2 separate regions of the Homo sapiens genome follow, and region 2 is linked to region 1. The links come from fine-mapping of genetic effects on gene expression. A gene starts in region 1. The other region holds a variant in brackets. All regions are shown on one strand. Distances are between the middles of the regions.

The links. PIP is the estimated chance that this variant, and not a neighbour inherited with it, causes the effect.
Region 2: its variant is the best candidate, but not a certain one, in a credible set for the expression of EP300 in CD4 T cells (CEDAR, PIP 0.64).

The regions. Positions count from the first base shown.
Region 1 is chr22:41,091,574-41,094,073 of GRCh38, reverse strand. It overlaps EP300 (EP300 lysine acetyltransferase), which reads right to left and starts at 1,482. Exons shown (of 31, transcript NM_001429.4): 1 at 976-1,482. The coding sequence starts at 1,069. It overlaps MIR1281 (microRNA 1281), which reads right to left and starts at 1,561; the gene lies at 1,508-1,561. RefSeq lists an enhancer at 792-1,031 and silencers at 1,142-1,241, 1,422-2,191, 2,292-2,500.
Region 2 is chr22:41,178,386-41,181,402 of GRCh38, reverse strand. It overlaps EP300 (EP300 lysine acetyltransferase), which reads right to left. Exons shown (of 31, transcript NM_001429.4): 31 at 1,326-3,017. The coding sequence ends at 2,447. Among named protein-coding and RNA genes, the nearest start is that of EP300-AS1, 18 kb to the left of the region's middle. The variant A/TA (reference allele first, on the strand shown) is at 1,870.

The sequences.
Region 1 (2,500 bases):
CTCCTGACAAAGGAGCTAGTCCACAACTGAATGAACTGGTCGTAAAGCTTTTAAACGAAAATCTTGATCTCCAAGTATGTTTAAAAGTGTAAAAAGACAAAGACACACACAAACACCAAACCTAATGCACATTTTAAACTTTTGTACAATCAGTTCACGTTTGTAGTTCATGATTGGAACTCTTTCAACTTCTAACCTTGATTTCCAGGTACGTAACTCCACAAAATTGTTTATCTTATTTCCCCTAAAATGAGAAAGTGACTGCAAACTGCAAAGAACATGCCCCTGTTCTCCCAACCTAAAAACCCAGAGTTTCAGACATTTTGGTCTCACACCAAAGAACTGGGAGATGTGAAATGAACTGCGCTCCATATTGATTCTTAAAGCAAATAAGAAGAAAAAGGAAAAAAAAGCTAAGAATGGTAGGTAAGATAAAAGAATTGTTAAACTTCACCTCTAACCTGAAATCTTGGACCTCGCACACACAAAATCAAGATTTTTTTACACCCTATTCCTCAACAGAAAATATTCTGCAAAGGAGAGAAAATTTCGAAGAGTGGAAAGTAGAGGAAACACAGTAAGTACAGTAAAGAGAAAGGATTCGAAATTCATTTGCCAAGAACAAAAAAAATGAAACTTAAATTGCATAGGAGCTCTTACACACAAATGCATTGGCATTTCCCAAATTAAATTGCATGAGAGCAACAATACAGGCCATTTCTATATAGCACCCACTTACGAGCTCTAATTCCAGAACACACACCGATATGACATAGTGTTGCAATCAATGTATTAGGAGGCAAAGAAAATGGTTGGGCTACTGGACGTCTTCGACCAGCTCATTCAAATACCTTTAAAATTAATTAAGGGGCAGGGAACTAGAGAGAGAGGAAGAAAAAAAAAATGGAAGAATAAAGGCGCACCGAGTAGAAAAGATTAAAGGGAACGTGGAAGGCCGGGGCTGCCGAAACTAACCTGTGCCATCGCTGGCGGACGCCGAGAGGGCCGGAGATGAGAGTTTAGGCCGCTTGGCTGAAGGCGGCCCCGGTTCCACCACATTCTCGGCCATTTTTAATTCTTTCGGAGATACAAGCGAGGAAAACCAGAATCCTCAGGAAATCTCTTCTTCGGCCCGGGGTCCCCGCGCCGCACCCAGGGGTGGGCTGGGGGGCTCCGACGGCACCCGAGGGGGTGGGGGAAGTTCCTTTTTCTCTTCGCCGGGTCGCAGTGGCTGGAGAGGGATGCGGACTCGATAGAAAAGGTAAGGGCAAGTGCGAGGGGCCGGGCCTGGGCCCAAGCCCGGAGGAGGGCACAAGAGCACAAATTCGCCGAGCGCGTCCGCTGCGGCGAATTCCCGAGAACTCGCGGCTCTAGAGGCGCAGTCCCCGGCCCGCCACGGCCGGCCCCTGCCCAGCCGAGGTCTCTCGGAGCTCCGCCGCCGCCATCAACCTCTTCCTCCTCGGCGCTGTCCTCCTCCTTCTCATCGCCACAAGGAGGCGGGGGCGAAAAGGGGGGAGAGGAGGAGGCGACAAGAGACACTCACCTCCTCCCGGTGCCCCCTCCCGGGCCTGCGCCCCCACCCTCCGAACCCTCCTCCTGCCGCCGCGCTCCGCGCCGCCGCCGCCGCACCGGCCCCTAATGGCCGCAGAGAACTCGCCCGAGCCGAGAGCCAGGCTGGCGCCGCCGCCTCACATCGCGCGGCGGCCGGCGGAGGCGCGGCAAGGACGCCGGGAGCGGAGCTGGCCGGACCAGAGGGCCGAGGGGGCCGGGCCGAGCAGCGCCGCCCGCACGCCCGCGCCGACGCGGAGCCCACCGAGGAGGCCCCGCTCCGGCGGCGGCGCAGGCGGCCCCTCCTCGCGCCGCGCTCCCCTCCTTCGCCTTCCTTTCCCGCGGAAAATAAATAAATACGGCCGCTGCTACGGCCCCCACCGCCGGCGGCCAGGTGCTGGGAGCGCCCGCCCCCCGGGGCTCCGTTCGGGGCCGCCCGCGGCGGCGGGAGAAGACGCCGCGGGGCGCGGGGTTATGTAATGGTCCCCCCTAGGCGTCGACGCCGGCCCGGCTGCTGGACCGCGGTGGGGGTGTGTGCGGACGGGAGGGGGCTGGGGGTCGCCTCAGCCCGTGCGCCCCGGGCCCCCTGCCACTGTCTCGGCCCCTGCCGCCTCTCTCCGACCCGACTCCCCTCCGCACTCTCTGGCTCCCGCAGTTAGCACTCAGCCCGGCGTCCTGCTTGCCCACTCTCGCCCGCTCTCTCTCGCCCTCTCTCCCCCCCAGCCTAGCACACAAACAAGATGGCGGCTGTTGTTTCTTCCCTCTGCCGAATCCTCCTTACAGGCTAGCGGTAGCGGCGGCGGCCGGAAATGAGCCAAGGGGGGGTGGAAAAGGGGAGTGGCCGGGCCTCCGGAGGGGGGCGGGGCCTAGGCCCGAGCCGCTCACACAATGGGGGAAGTGGAGCCGGGGGCGGGGCCTGTCCCAATCACGGGATCCGCCCTAGGCCCCAACG
Region 2 (3,017 bases), 87 kb before region 1:
GGCTGGCTCTGATTAATGCTGAGTGAGTTCACCTCACATTAAGATGCTGGTAAGGTGGCTCATGCCTGTAATCCCAGCAATTTGGGAGGCCAAGGTGGAGGATCACTTGAGTCCAGGAGTTCGAGACCAGACTGGGTAACATAGCAAGACCCTGTCTCTATAAAAATTTTAAAAAGTCAGCCAGGCATGATGGTACACACCTTTGAGTCCCAGCTACTAGGGAGGCTGAGGTAAGAGGACTGCTTCAGCCCATGAGTTTGAGGCTACAGTGAACTACAATTGTGCCACTGCATTCCAGCCTGGGTGACGAGACTGTCTTAAAAAAAAAAGATGCTGGTTGTTTTCAGACTAAAATAGTAGCAACAGGTCAACGTATCTGAAATCCTTTAGCAGTCATATATGGTTAGTGTAAATCTCTGTGATAAAAGAAAGATCTGGAATTGATACCAAAGCAGCTCAGTACTTTTTAGTGTACTAACACATTTGTTTTAACAACTTGTTCACAGCTACTGCAATGTTCAGATGGAGGATCAATAATCTCTCCATTCTTTGAGCATCTAGCATATTACTGGACTCATGTGTAATCTCTCTCAGCCTTCTAGGTTTTATTTCCACACATTTTCCTTCCCTTCAACCCGATTCCAACTGACTTCTTTGTATTCAGTTAGCAAACAGGAGTGTTCCCCTAGCTTCATCTTCTCTGTTTTTAAAAGACGGAGTCTTTGGAGTGCAGTGGTGAGATCCTGGCTAACTGCAACCTCCACCAGGATCTGATTCTCCTGCCTCAGCCTCCCAAGTAGCTGGGACGGCAGGTGCCCACCACCACGCCCTGCTGATTTTTAGTAGAGATGGGGGTTTCACCATATTGGCCAGGCTGGTCTTGAACTCCTGACCTCGTGATCTGCCTGCCTTGGCCTCCCAAAATGTTGGGATTATAGGCGTGAGCCACCATGCCTGGCAAGTCTTGTTTTTTCCAAGAAGTTACTTGGGACTTAGGCAGATATGATCCGTCTTCTTAGGTCCTCCTTCTCATCCCTGTAAGATGAAGGTGATTGGAAGACCATGAGGTCATCCTTAAGGGGTCCTGTATCAAGGTGTTAAGTAGGTTATCACTTCCACCTTGACTGTTAGCTGGTACCTGCAGTACTTTTTCCCAGAACTTTGGATAAATTCACCAAGATCTACTTGTGAATACATTATACGTAGTAGATTAAAGAGGCTATAAGCTAATGCTTTCACTTTTTCCTCTGAATCCTAAGCATTAGGCACTTAAAACGGGTGTACTCCAAGACAAAGATGTGTTATCAAGTGAAACAAAGTCAGGGTGTCTGTCTCACACAGTTTATTTAACAATAGGTAATAAGAAATCAAATTTAACAGTCTATACAGTGATCCAAAGTTCATATTTATAAGTAATCAACTTTAATTGCATGATTTACAACAGTTGAGGGTTTTTGCTATTTTCAAGTTTTATAGAAAGTGTGTGTGTGTGTGTGTGTGTGTGTGTGTGTGTGTGTGTGTGAGTGGGGGGTAGGGTAAGGAGGAAGAAAGCAAGCAAAGAAGAAACCCCCAGGGACATTTTGCATGTTAAAATCATCCCACCGGAATCGTTTCTTACCCTCTTTTTAATTTTTTTACTTTGTTAGATGTAAAAATAACGAAAAAAATTCTTTCAAGAAACAGAAACCACAATATATAATACATCAATTTGGCAGCTGCCCCTGTATATTTTTGAAAAAGTCATTTTTCTCTCTACATGTACAAATTATTTTAATACTTGAAGTTTTACGCTCAGACTTACAGAATAGAAAATTTTCTGGAGCACAAAAGTTGACTTGAGGGGAAGAAAGGCAGTTTTTTTTTTTTTTT[A/TA]AACATTTTTTAAAAGAATGAACATCTTTGCACCCAGAGAAAAAAAACTGGTATTTTAATATATATTTATATATATTTATATATATATAGAATGTAATTTTAAAGTAACATTAACCCCTTTTGTCCTCTGGTTTAGAAATGTTTTAACTCTTCCATAAAGTGAGGAAAATAGGGAAAAATGTCAACCATCTGCACCAGTAAATAATAACTATTAATATTACATATGTTCATTAATTTAAAAAAAATAATAAAACCTATTGGAGGTGCAAGGCAGGAGCATATTGTTTGGCTTCACAGGCCTCAGCCTCCTCCCAGTGCACACTTGAACCACACACACAAAGGGGAAGAAAGGCTGGTGGTAACCAGCCATAACAAAAATATATTCTTTGTATTCTATCATCCCTCAGGTTCATCTTGCATGTTTGCTTTAAACCACAAACGGCTACTGCACAGTTCTTATGTGTTCCAAGGAAAATTGTCTTTTAGGCTACGAAAGATTCAAAAAAATTGTTTTCAGTACAAAAAGTCTTGTTAAGAGAAAATAATTTTTTTGCTCCCAAAATACTACAAGGTGTCTCTAGTGTATGTCTAGTGTACTCTGTGAGAGGTTTGAATTCAAGTCTGAGTTATCGGTGCTGAGTCCCAGGTCCGTGGCGCTTGCACCATGGAGGTTTGCCATGCCTGGATTGCTAGCAAGCTGAGAAAGCATTGAATTCTGGTCCGGGCTGGCAAAATGCCCTTGTTCCATGGGGTTGGCCTGGGCAGCTACCAGTCCAGGATGTGGGGAACTTGTCTGTGGGGAAACGTGGTGTGGAGAAGGCTGAGGCTGCATCCTTGGGGAAGGACTGGAGTGGGGGGGCTGGGACTGTGGCCGTGGAGAAGGGACAGGCTGGGGAGAGCGCACTTGATTGGAGAGAGAATTAGGGATCTGCTGGCCTTGTAGGTGTGGGGACTGGGCCTGATTTGGGAGCATATGCTGCTGGGGGCTCATGGGGTTGGGCTGAACAGGGGACCCCATCTGTTGCTGAAGGAGTCGCTGCTGATAGGCCTGTAGACTGGCACCTGCCTCTGCTCCCAAGGCCTGGGGAAGCTGGCCTATCTGTCCCATATTTCCTTGTTGCATCTGTTGCATGTGATGCTGCATCCGC